Linked DNA regions of Homo sapiens: all the other regions are reported to be linked to region 1. The links are microRNA targets in miRTarBase. Many come from high-throughput screens and were not tested one by one. Region 1 holds a microRNA gene; each other region holds the end of a gene's coding sequence.
Evidence for each region. Region 1 holds the annotated microRNA hsa-miR-4767 (CGCGGGCGCUCCUGGCCGCCGCC, at 2,168-2,190, opposite strand). A microRNA usually pairs through its seed, bases 2 to 8, with sites in the 3' UTR of a target mRNA and lowers its output. Matches are read on the target gene's strand: a 7mer-m8 pairs with bases 2 to 8, a 7mer-A1 pairs with bases 2 to 7 and ends in A, and an 8mer does both.

Region 1 (4,163 bases):
CATACTTACTGTAGGTACCACAGCTATGTGTGTGCAATGCATCTATTATGGAATTGTGTTCCCAAAAATATATGTTGGAGTCCTCATCCCCGCTACCTCAGAATGTGACCTTATTTGGAAACAGGATTTTGTCAGAGGTAATCAAATTAAAATGTAGTTATTAGGGTGGTCCTTAGTCCAATAAGAATCGTGTTCTTATAAAAGGAGAAAATTTGGACACAGAGACACACACAGAGGGAAGACGATAGGACAAGATACAGGGAAAGGAAAGCAGGTTCAAGCTGAGGAGAAAGACCTGGAATAGGTCCTTTCCTCACAGCCCTCAGAAGGAATTAAGACTGCTGACATCTTGATCTAGGACTTCTGGCCTCCAGATCTGTGACACAATACACATCTGCTGTTTAGGTTACTTAGTCTGTGGTATATTACTATGGCAGCTGTAGTAAACTAATACAGAAACCACGAACGACTGTATTTGAGGCGCAAGTCCCTACCTAATTTGCTCATAAATTGCCTTCTCTGAAATCCCGTGTCCTCAAAGGGAAATCACGATTGCATTAAATGGGGGAAGCTCTCTTATAGTACCACCTCTAAGAACACATAATTTTATTGACTATATATTATGCACTGGTACTAAGGGCTTGGCCTGCCTCACCTCCTTTATCACCTCCATTTTACCCAGGAGGAAACAGACACAGGTGCACTTTGTCTATCATAGATAATAATTCTTGCTGAATCCAGGCATGCCCCTGTCCACTATGTCTGCACTAAACTAGAAATACACTCTCATGTTTACACCTTTTTTTTTTTGTCTTTTTCCCCTTTTGTGGAGAACAGGGTCTCGCTATATTGCCCAGGCAGTTCTTAAACTTCTGGGCTCAAACTATTCCCCCAACTCCCACTTCTGCCTCCCTAAGTACTGGGATTACAGGTGTGGGCCACTGCGCCCAGCACACCCTCACGTTTTTAAAGTCTTGAAATTCTCCTATTTCCGCTTCTCAAAAGGTCCAATCCTTTTCCTTAAACGTGAATATACCACATAAACGAACACGAAATAGAAACAGGGACAAAAAAGTATTTTTTTGACGATGGCAAACGGGAAAAAAAAAAAAGAAAGCTGTTTAGGTGGCATTTGAAAAGTTAAAAAAGAAAGAAAACTCAGAGCAGCCCAAAAGACAGATGATACCTAAGAAGGCACAACCAGCAAGACATGTTGACTGTTAGTATTATTTCAGCATCCTCCTTGAGCAGCTTGGCTTTGCTCTGGGACAATGCACCAGCCTGGGATGCTCAGAGATGCAGGCACGGAGGTTGTGCAGCCTCTCCGCACACTGCGCATGCGCGGCTGCCGGTTCAAGTCGCGGTCCAGGACCGCAAGGAGGCGGGCAAGCGAAACTGAGAAAAACCCACCCACGGTCCAGGGACTGGGGGCTCGGGCGAACCCACCCAGGGACCTCCTGACCAAGGCCATTTGTCTGCAACCTGATGGCTAGAAGTGATACCACCCTGAGCATCTTCAATCCCCTTTCCCCACTCTACAGCCCCTTGTACTGTCCCTCCTTCCTCATTCACACCCCTGATCCAAACTCAAGCACTGAATTTGTCCCCAGACGAGGGCCTCGGCTCTGCGCGGCCGCTGGCTGAGTAGCTTGGCCCGATTCCGGGTGTGAAGTGAGGAGGAATTGATGCGGGTAAACATACAGCGCCGGCCCGCGCCGCATCCCGGGTCTGCAGCTACAGCTGCGGCGAAAGCCCAAGGTGCGCGTGCGCGGAGCGCCACTAGGCAGCCCAGGACGCGCGGGCTCGGAGCCGGGCGAGGGGCCGCGGAAGGCGCGTGCGCAGAGCGACCCCGGGCGCGCGAGAAGGTCCTCAGTGCGCGTGCGCGGGGCGGGCGGGTGCGCGCGCACTTCCTCCTCGCCCCCACCCAGACCCAGAAGGCGCCACCATGGCGGCGCCCCCGCAGCCCGTCACCCACCTCATCTTTGACATGGACGGACTTCTTCTGGGTGGGTAGTGTGCAGCCGCCGCCTCCAGTAAGGGCGGTCTTGTGTGGGCGTGGGGACGGTCGGCGCGGGGTACGTCACGGCCTGGGGGCCGCGGCGGGGCGGTGTTCATGCAGGGACGCTCGGGCTCCCGCGCGCTCTGCCCCCGGCTGGCCCCGAAGTCGGGCGGCGGCCAGGAGCGCCCGCGGGCCCATGTCCGGGCTGGCGGGCGCGCGTGGCCGCGGCGTCTACGCGGCCCCAGCACCCGCTTCCGGTCGGCGGCCCGCGCGTGGGGCCGGAGCACGTGGGAGCAGTCCCTGGGGTCCACCGGGCGGGCGCGCGGCTCCGCGTCCTCTCCTCAGAGCGAGGCGCGGCGGGACCTCCGCGCTCTCTTTTCGGTTACGCATGCGTGCGACCTTGAGCGGTGCCCAGCCTCAGCTTCCCCGTCTGCAAAGTAGCCTGGAGGATACTTGCCTGCCTGCTCCAAGGTTGCTGCTGTGGGCGCACTTTGATGGTAGCATCCTGCATGGTAGCGGTTCTCTACCTGGCGGTTTTGCAGCCCTGAGGGCATCTGGCAATGGCGATGTCAGGAGACATTTTGGCTGTCACAGCTGGCGAGGAGTGATGGGGTCACTGGCATCTAGTGGAGTCCAGACCAGTGATACTGTTAAACTTCCCGCAGTGCACAGGAGTGCCCTATGCAACCATAAGGAATTATCCCGCGCCGTCAACAGTGTAGAGGCACAGAAGGTCCGTCAAGTGGCCTGGCTGCCTAGGGTGACCAGCACCGGGGACATCACCTGTGGGCTACTTGTAAATGTAGAAGCTGGGGCCCCACCCTACCCCTGCCCAATCAGAATCTGCATTTTAAGCGCGTGAACGTTTGAGAACAGCTGCTCTATCAATCCGAGGCATTAAGAAACCCTTGGCAGTGTACTAAGGTAGTCAGTCTTAGCACATGTGAACTTCACCAGCCAAGAGGAATTCAAGTAGAATTCAAAGAATAAAACCCTGTTTTTAACTCAAGACAGAACTATGCTGAGCTCTACCGAAAGCCTTGACACAGTTAACACTATGACACATAATCACCAGGAGGCTTCATATATCTATAAACATGTCTGCATACTCTTTGTAGACAGCTGACCTGCTTGGTTACGTATATCATTCCTTCATTTCAAAACCCTGCAAGTTAGGAGGAAGTATTTGCATGTCACTAATTAAAAAAAAAAAAAAAAAAAAAACCCTGCAGCTCAGAGAGGTAAAGCTACTTGCCCAAGGTCACACAGCTAATAAGCCAAGCTGAGAAACGATTCTGGATTGATCCAGTTCTAAATATAAATGATGTTGAGCTCATCTTAAATTGTGAATGTGACCTTGTTTCTGCTCATCATATTGCTGGGTAATTCCCTAGCAGTGTTTCCTTTTAAAAAGGCATGCAGAAACCATTCTCTTCATTTTATGAACACAGAGGTGTAAACTGATGAATTCCAAAGGAAAAAAAAAATCCCCGTAGAGGTCACTAATTGGAGCCAACGGTGTATGCAGCTACTAAATTTGAAATGACTCAATTTCAGAAAGCTTGTGGGATACATAGGTATAGTTTGTAGACATGAATTTTCCTACTCCGGTGGTCAAAAAGTTAAATTGTCAAATAAATTTCTTATCCTCTAATAAAGGTCCAGAGAACCTGTTCTGGGAGTCTCATGAATTTTAATACCAAACAAGATGTCTCATTAAAATTAAATTTATTAAACTTCTAAATGAGCTTGGTGCCTAATTCTGATTCTAGATTCACACATAGCCATGCCCTGAAGTGATGAATGTGACTTAAATGGCATTACAAGCATTGACCTCACATTGTTACCCAATCCTCTGATCTAGTCAGATAACCAAGAATTAGTGCTATTTGGAAAAATAAGCCCTGCTTCTTTTTATTCCCCCCCCTCATTTTCTGCCCATTTCCTCCTTTCCTGCCCTACCTCTTCTTTGAGGTGGTAAGGCCTTGCAAAACTTTCTTGGAAATATACCTTTGTTTATCCCATTCTTTCACCAAATGTGTAAATATAAAACACAGCTTTCCAAGATGTGCCACTTTAATTTAATCTACCAGATTATGCCTGCTGTCATTCTTTAGCACCTCACTTCAGTGTATCTGTTGTTTGCATAACAATATACTATCAA
Region 2 (4,096 bases), not on the chromosome of region 1:
CAGGAGCAAGTCTCCTGCCTCAGCCTCCTGAGTAGCAGGGACTACAGGCACTCACCACCACGCCCAGCTAATTTTTGTATTTTTAGTAGAGACGGGGTTTCATCGTGTTGGCCAGGATGGTCTCAATCTCCTGACCTCGTGATCCGCCCGCCTTGGCTTCCCAAAGTGCTGGGATTACAGGCGTGAGCCAACGCACCAGGCCAGAGACCCTGTCCTTTAATAAAAATAAAGATAGCATTTCTGGCGTGTCTTCAGAAATTGCCGTGTGGCCAGCATAAGGGGGGGCAGCATCCTGGGCCACGTCTCCCACCCCCTCAGGCCGGGTGTCCACCGGGAAGTCCCCCTTCACCCGCTCCAAGACCTTGCCTGGCATTTGAGTATGGAACCTTCTCAGATTTTGCCCACAGGGCCCGGGGAGAAGCAAATCCTCACCATGTTAGGAGGTTTGGGGAAACTGAGGCCCCGGGAGCAGAAACCTGAGGCTGCAGAGGGCCAGGGACTTGTCCCCAGCTGCCTGGGGCTTCTAGGCAGAGGCTGGAAGTATGTCCGGGCTCTCACTCTGGCCCAGAGGGCTCAAGGGTAAATCCCTTGGTTCCTCTCTCTCTTTCCCACCCAGATCCGGACGCTGCGGCTGAAGATCTTGGCAGACGCAGCAGCTGAGGGGGTCCCGGTGCGTGGGGCCCGGAACCAGCTGCGCATGTACCTGACCATGGCGGTGGCGGCGGCGCAGCCTATGCTCATGTACTGGCTCACCTTCCACCTGGTGCGGTGAGCGCGCCCGCTGAACCTCCCGCTGCTGCTGCTGCTGCTGGGGGCCACTGTGGCCGCCGAACTCATCTCCTGCCTGCAGGCCCCAAGGTCCACCCTGTCTGGCCACAGGCACCGCCTCCATCCCATGTCCCGCCCAGCCCCGCCCCCAACCCAAGGTGCTGAGAGATCTCCAGCTGCACAGGCCACCGCCCCAGGGCGTGGCCGCTGTTACAGAAACAATAAACCCTGATGGGCATGGCGTGGACAGCCTCTCCTTGGCCTCGCGCACGAATGGGCGGGCCCAGCGCTGGGCAGGGGGCAGGGAGCTGGGGACGGGCCAGAGTAGGCACCACGCTGACCAGTCGCAGAAGGCAGAGAGGAAGGTTTAATGAGCCCTGTCCAGGGCCCTTCAGTGGGGAGCCTCCTTCTTCTTGCCCTTCTCCTTCTTGCCCTTCTCCTTCTTCTTCACTTTGGGCTTCTTGGCCTTGCCCGGGATGCTCTCGTGCTGCTTGGAGCCAGCAGCGTGGGACTGTGGGGCCGAGGGCAGGGATGGGAGAGAAGAGATGGTTCTGGGCTGGAAGCGAGACAGGGGGACCACTCCCCGCACCCTCCCCGCCAGCCCCAGTGCGGGGACGCCTCTCTGGGGTGCAGGGCACGTGCTTGGGGACGCTGGCGAGAGCCCCTTACCTTCACATCCGTGTCCGAATCGCTGGAGCTGCTGCTGGAGTCGGAAGAGCTGTGGTGTCCTTGCTGGATGGAGGTGCGGCAGTGAGGCGGCGCCCCTTACCCAGCCCCCTGAAGTTGGAGGCCTAAGGCAGGACCCTGGGGTCAGGGGCAACCCCAGCCTTCCCGCCCCTCCGCAGCCGGTGATGAGGCGACTTACCTTTGGACCCGGACCTGCCCCTGCCTCCGACCGGCCCTGAACTTTGTGGGGACTGAGCTTGGGATCTCCCCCGTGGCCCGCCCCCACACCGGGCTTCTGGGAGGTGGGCTCCAGGGCTGTGGAGAGAAGTTGGGTGGTTGGTGCAGGCAGCTTCTGGGCTTGAGTCCGGCCCCCTGCACCTCCAGTCCACACTCCCCAGGAGCTCACCTGCTCCCAGGTCGAACTCCATGGCGGTAAGAGAAGTTGGGTCCTAAGGCCAAGGGCGCCTGGGCCCTGCAGAGGAGCGGAGCAGGGGGAGGAGCGCTGAGACCTGCCCGTTGGAGGAATGCTGAGACGCCCCACCCAACCTCTGTCCTGGTCCTCAGCCCTGACTCATTGCCCGGCACCACCCAGGATTTCCTCTGTGAGAAGTGGGGGAGATGGACAGGTGACTGCTTCCGCCAGCCTTGGTGCCTCAGGGGAGGCCGACTGAGGGGGGCTCTGTGGATGGCATTCGGGGAGCTACAGGTTTCCCCCAAAAGCTCAGATGCTCGTTCTTGAAGAGGGAGGTGCTGCCCCTGCCTTCCTGCGTACCGCGACAATACAGCTTCCTCCGCGGCGCTTTAACACGCAGGGCGCTGCTGCCAGGGGCGTCCCGTGTTCTAACTCGCTCCCACAGCCCCTCCGGCTTGGTGAGCAGCGTCTGAGGGGTGAGGGGCATAGACTTGGAGCCAGCCTGCTGCACTAGATGCCAGCTGTGTCACTTAGCAGCAAGGTGACCTCAGCAAAGTTGTTTTACCTCTGTGCCTCAGTTTCCTCATCTGTAAATAACAGCTACCCATGGGATTGATGTGAAAGTCAGAGGAGTTAATTTCCTAGAATGGTGTCTGGCATGAAGTACTGATAATGTGTTGGTTTTTTAAAAAATAAAAGGTAGGTGTTTTAGGCCAGTCATGGTGGCTCACGCCTGTAATCCCAGCTGCTCCGGAGGCTGAGGCACGAGAATCACTTGAACCTGGGAGGCAGAGGTTTCGGTGAGCCAAGATCACACCACTGCACTCCAGCCTGGGCGACACAGTGAGACTCCGTCTCAACAAAGAAAAAAATATATAGATATAAAAGATAAGTGTCAGGCCGGGCATGGTGGCTCACGCCCAGCACTTTGGGAGGCCGAGGCAGGTGGATCACCTGAGGTCAGGAGTTGGAGACCAGCCTGGCCAACATGGTGAAACCCTGTCTCTACTAAAAATACAAAATTTAGCCAGCCATGGTGGCAGGTGCCTGCAATCCCAGCTACTTGGGAGGCTGACCCAGGATAATCACTTGAACCCGGGAGGCAGAGGTTGCAGTGAGCCGAGATTGCGCCATTGCACTCCAGCCTGGGTGATGGAGCGAGGCTCCATCTCAAAAAAAAAAAAAAAAAAAAAAAAAAAAAAAGTGTCTTAATCAGTGTGGGCTGCTGTAACAAATATAGAGAGGGTGGCTTCAACAGGAAACAGTTCTCACGGTCCTGGAGGCTGGAAGTCTGAGATAGGGGTGTTGGTAGATCCAGTGTCAGGAGTGCCGCTTCCTGGCTCGTTGACAGCCACCTTCTCCCTTCCTCCCGGCATGGCCCAGAGCAAGATCATCTCATGTTGTGTCCCTTTCTATAAGGGCACAAATCCCATTAATAAGGGCTCCACCCACATCACCTGATGACCTCCCAGAGGTCCTACCTCCAAATACCATCACTCAGCTTCAGCACAGGAGTTTGGGGAAGACACAAACATTCAACCCCTACTGTTCCAACCCCTGCTTCACAGATGAGAAAACTGAGGGAGTAGGTAAGAAGACGAGGGGCAAACATATAGCATGGGCCAGGTGAAGTGGTTCATGCCTGTAATCCTAGCACTTTGGGAGGGAAGCAAGGCAGGAGGATCACTTGGGCCCAAGAGTTTGAAATCAGCCTGGGCAACATACTGAGACCATCTCTACATAAAATTAAAACTTAGCCAGGCATGGTGGCACTCGCCTGTAGTTCCAGCTACTTGAGAGGCTGAGGCGGGAGGATCACTTGAGCCTGGGAAGTCCAGGCTGCAGTAAGCTGTGATTGAGCCACTGCACTCCAGCCTGGGTGACGAAGCAAGACCCTGTCTCAAAACACACAGGCTGAGCACAGTGGCTCACACCTGTAATTCCCAGCACTTTGGGAGGCTGAGGCAGGCGGATCACCTGAGGTTAGGAGTTTGAGACCAGCCTAGCCAACATGGTCAAACCCCGTCTCTACTAAAAAAAATACAAAAATTAGCCAGGCATGGTGGCGTACGCCTGTAATCCCAGCTACTTGGGAGGCTGAGGCAGGAGAATTGCTTGAACCCGGGGGGTGGAGGTTGCAGTGAGCCAAGATCACACTGCTGCACTCCAGCCTGGGCGACAGAGCAAGAATCCATCTCAAAAAAAAAAAAAAAAAAAAAAAAAGCTAGGGGTACAGAGGTTAAAAAAAAA
Region 3 (4,096 bases), not on the chromosome of region 1:
GGGTTTGGAGCCAGAGGTGGGGCCACAGCCCTCTCTCCTCTCAAGGAAGATGGGAGCCTCCCCCTCCCTGCTCCCCCCCATGTCAGCTCCTGGCCCCCATTCTCCGTGGGGGCTTCCCATTCCTCCAGGGACCCCCCGGGGTGGGGTCTCTTCTCCTTCTGGGGTCCTTGTGTGCCTGGTGGGGTAGGGGGCCGCACCCACGCCTTCGGGGGTTCCTGGGCCAGTCCCTGGCGCAGGGAGGCTGCGGCCCGCCCGGGAGCCGCCGGGACCCCCGCCCTGACCCCCGCCTCCCCCGCAGTACGGCATCAAGAAGAAGGAGGAGCGCGAGGCCGAGGCCCAGGCCGCCATGGAGGCCAACTCCGAGGGGAGCTTGACGCGGCCCAAGAAGGCCATCCCGCCGGGCTGCGGGGACGAGGTGGAGGAGGAGGACGAGAGCATCCTGGACACCGTCATCAAGTACCTGCCCGGGCCGCTGCAGGACATGCTCAAGAAGTAGCCGCGCGCGGGACAGCGGCCCCGCGGAGCCCCCGCCCCTCCCCCTACAGATCCTCCGCGGAGGCCCCTGAGGGACGAGCAGAGCGCAGCCCCCACGCCGATATAAGCCATAGCCCCAGGCCCGCCCTGCCCGCGCCCGCCGCCTCCCTCACCCGGCAAGGGGCGCGCGCCCCCAGGACCCCCCCAGTCCGCCCCGTGCTCCTCTGCCCGCGGGTGGCTGGAGCCCCATCGCCTGGGACGCCCCTTTCTCTTGCTGTTTACCGCCCACCCAGCAGCGCCCGAGGCCAGGGCCGCCGAAGGGCAGCCCCGCGACCACCCCTGTGCGCGCGTTCGCGGCGGTGGGCGCCTGTCGGGCCCGCACTCAGGAGCACAGCCATAGCAGACGGGGGGCTGCGGGCGGGGCGAGGGCGGCGGGGCCTGGGTCCCCCTCCTGCACGCGGACTCCGGGGTTCGGATCGCTCCGCCGTGAGTATTTGCGTCCGCACGCGGCCGCTCTCCGCCCCCCGGCCTGGCCCCCTCGCGCCCCTGTCCATCCGTCTCTGTCCGCGTCCTTTCCTCTCCTCTCTGGAAGGTTTTGCTTCTTACGAACGCCACGGCCGTGTTCACTTCTAAACTAAAGGAAACAAAGCAATAGGTTTGGGGGACGCCCAGCCCCCACCCCCGTCACCCCGCTCTTCCCAAGTCCTCGCCCCCCGCCCGGCCTCCTAGCCTCTCCGCCCACGCGGCTGCTGCTTCTCCCTGGGGAGGACCCCTGCCCTCGGCCATTGAACACTGCACCCTCCACAGGAGCCGCAGAGGCCCGAGGCACCGGACGCTGGAGACCCTGCGCCCCTGCCCAGCACCTCCTCCGTGGGCAGCTCCTCGGGTGGGGCCTGCGGGGTTCCCTGCGCGCAGCTGGCGCGTGTGTGGCCTAATCCACCTGGTGGCCCTGCGGGGCGGCATCCGAGCCCCTGTTTCTCCTCCATTCATGTTTAATTTGCATCACAATTTGTTGAATCTCAGGTAAATGAGGTCTTTGCATTTAATGAGTTTTATCTTGACAGGCGCCGCCTCGCCCCCGGGCCCTTTCGTCCACATCAAAAATGCATCAAGTCTCCACGTGTTTCGGGCCAGGGCGTGGCTTGGCATTGACCTTCATGACCTTACATAGCTTTAGAGAAGCCATAACGTTAGACTGCAATACTAACGACCGACGCCCCTCCGGGCAGAGACCACCGCGCCCCTCTGCGCCCCAGCGACGCGGCCCGCGGGGACGTCGCTGTCCGTCCTGCTCGCCCTGTGCCCTCTCACTGACTTCTCCCGGGTCGTGTCTTTTAAAAACTCCTGTTTTCACACCTTACAAAGCCAGCTCTGAGCAGACAGGGCGTCCTCTCGTAGAACCTGCGCACCCCGTTCCCAGCGCATGGCGCCCCGGGCCGCGAGCTTAGCTTAGACCGTGGTGTCCTCTGTCCGTCTGTCCTGCGCCTGCGCCTCCTCCTGCATGTCGGGGCCCCTGCGTGTGTTCTCTCCGGATGGAATCACAGCCAATAAACACCAGTGATTTCACACCGTGTGGCCATTCCTTCCAGAGGTCCATTTCGCCAGCCGGAGGACCGGGGCTTTCCCCCGCGCATGTTCTCTCCACGGCGGCTGCAGGGCCTCCCACCATTCTCACTCAGCTCCATCCAGTCAGACCCATTTTCCCTAGGCCGTCCAGCCAGCGCAACCTCCATCTAAACACAAACCTGCGCCTTCAGGGTCTCCCGCCCCCCAGGGTGGTTCTTCCACCCGCAAAGCATCTGCCCTCTGCTCTCCCTCCCACCTAGGACCCCCGACCACAGGCCTGTCCCTCTCCTCAGCTCCACCGGGCCCAGGGCCCCAGGTCACCCTGTGCTGCCCTTACCTCGGCCCACCCAGGAATTCCTGCCCCCCAGCACCCCCGTGGGACTGTCCCTCCTCCTGAGTCCTGGACCCGGATCCCTGCAGGGAAATGTCTGCCAACCTGGGCTGAGGCCAGAAGAGGTTCCTGACCCCAACCCAGAGAACAGCCCCTCTGCCTGGTTGCTGGCGGTCCCGCCCACACTCAATCCGCTGGATGCGCAGCCCACGCCTAGCTGCTGCCTGCCACTTGCTTCCCCAGAAAGTCCTTGTTTGACCTCCAAGTTTGGAAGCTGTTAAAAGATGATTCTGGCCAGGTGCGGTGGTTCAGGCCAGGTGCGGTGGTTCAGGCCGGGCGCGGTGGCTCACGCCTGTCATCCCAGCACTTTGGGAGGACGAGGTGAGCGGATCACGAGGTCAGGAGATGGAGACTATTCTGGCTAACAAGGTGAAACCCCATTAATACTAAAACTACAAAAAAAAAAAAAAAAAAGCTGGGTGAGGTGGCAAGCAACTGTAGTCCTAGCTACTCGGGAGGCTGAGGCAGGAGAATCGCCTTGAACCTGGGAGTCAGAGGTTGCAGTGAGCCGAGATGACACCACTGCACTCCAGCCTGGGCGACAGAGCGAGACTCCCTCTCAAAAAAAAAAAAAGAAAAAAGAAAAGAAAAGATGGTCCCGTGACACTTGTTACAGCTGAGTGAGGAAGGCTTTATTCAGGACCAGCACTACAGGTACAGGGACCATGCAACAGGGCTTGCCATGGGTGCCAAGGAGCAGGGTGGGCTCAGTGGATGGAAAATGACTGAGGAACATCAGGGGTTGGGGGATTCTGATGAAACCCATCTAACTGGATTCTAGCTGGAGACAGGCAGGGCAATCAGACAGACCCATAGGGTGGTGAAGCATGAGGACCCCAATCAGATCTCCAGGATGAAGGTTTGTTGCTAAACTGACTTAGCCAGATTCTTTGCTAAAACTGCATTTTACAAGGAAGTGGGCCAATGGGCCTACCAGAAGATTCAGGAAGTTAACTAAAGTTTGACCACACAAAAAATCTTTGTCAGGAGCCCTCTCTAGGGAGCAGCATGTCTGGGTCTCCTGTAACCTTCCTGATGCTGCTGGCTGGGAATGCCCCAGGGAGCTGCCCAGTCCCAGGGCAGGAGGGCCCCATGTGCCCTGACCCCAGGCCGGGCCCTCCTGGATGCCAGGTGGGAGCTGGGAGGGAACGTGCTCTCCTCCAAGCCCAGGGAAGGGTGTATCCAGCTCCTCCTCCTGCTGCCTCTGGGGAAGTGTGCACCCCAGGCACCACCAAATTGCCCAGGGTGATCTCTCCTCTGCCAGCTGGCCCCCCTTCCTCCTGGAACAGAAACTCAGTGTCTTTGCACCCACCCCTGTGTCCGTGGCTGCTGCCAGCTGCCCCTCAACAGGGCACCCCAACATCCAGCCACTGCTCAGCCTCCATCCTCCCCCAGCCTCCCATTTCCCATCCACAGCCTGGTCTGGACCCCCTTGCAAGCCTAAGCAGCGACTTGGACGTGCCAGGTCACGACCCAGGCAGCTTTCCCTTGGAGTCTTTTTTTTTTGAGACAGAGTCTCTCTCTGTCCCCCAGGATGGAGTGCAGTGGTGCGATCTCGGCTCACTGCAAGCTCCGCTCCCAAGTTCACACCATTCTCCTGCCTCAGCCTCCCGAGTAGCTGGGACTACAGGCACCCGCCACCACGCCCGGCTAATTTTTTGTATT

Region 2: the mRNA of YIF1B is a reported target of hsa-miR-4767. Seed matches in the 3' UTR shown: 7mer-m8 at 776-782.
Region 3: the mRNA of CPLX1 is a reported target of hsa-miR-4767. Seed matches in the 3' UTR shown: 7mer-m8 at 629-635 and 7mer-A1 at 849-855.

Annotation. Positions count from the first base shown.
Region 1 is chrX:7,145,896-7,150,058 of GRCh38, reverse strand. It overlaps MIR4767 (microRNA 4767), which reads right to left and starts at 2,199; the gene lies at 2,122-2,199. It overlaps PUDP (pseudouridine 5'-phosphatase), which reads left to right and starts at 1,906. Exons shown (of 4, transcript NM_012080.5): 1 at 1,906-2,006. The coding sequence starts at 1,946. STS (steroid sulfatase) reads right to left here and starts at 2,347. Exons shown (of 11, transcript NM_001320752.2): 1 at 1,976-2,347. RefSeq lists an enhancer at 1,427-1,476 and a silencer at 1,667-2,386.
Region 2 is chr19:38,302,028-38,306,123 of GRCh38, reverse strand. It overlaps YIF1B (Yip1 interacting factor homolog B, membrane trafficking protein), which reads left to right. Exons shown (of 8, transcript NM_001039672.3): 8 at 617-2,566. The coding sequence ends at 772. C19orf33 (chromosome 19 open reading frame 33) reads right to left here and starts at 1,873. Exons shown (of 4, transcript NM_033520.3): 1 at 1,841-1,873; 2 at 1,634-1,749; 3 at 1,438-1,500; 4 at 1,118-1,279. The coding sequence starts at 1,862. The coding sequence ends at 1,160. RefSeq lists enhancers at 538-1,275, 1,276-2,013, 2,014-2,751.
Region 3 is chr4:782,901-786,996 of GRCh38, reverse strand. CPLX1 (complexin 1) reads left to right here. Exons shown (of 4, transcript NM_006651.4): 4 at 299-2,040. The coding sequence ends at 496. Among named protein-coding and RNA genes, the nearest start is that of PCGF3-AS1, 3.1 kb to the right of the region's middle. RefSeq lists enhancers at 1,015-1,886, 3,881-4,096.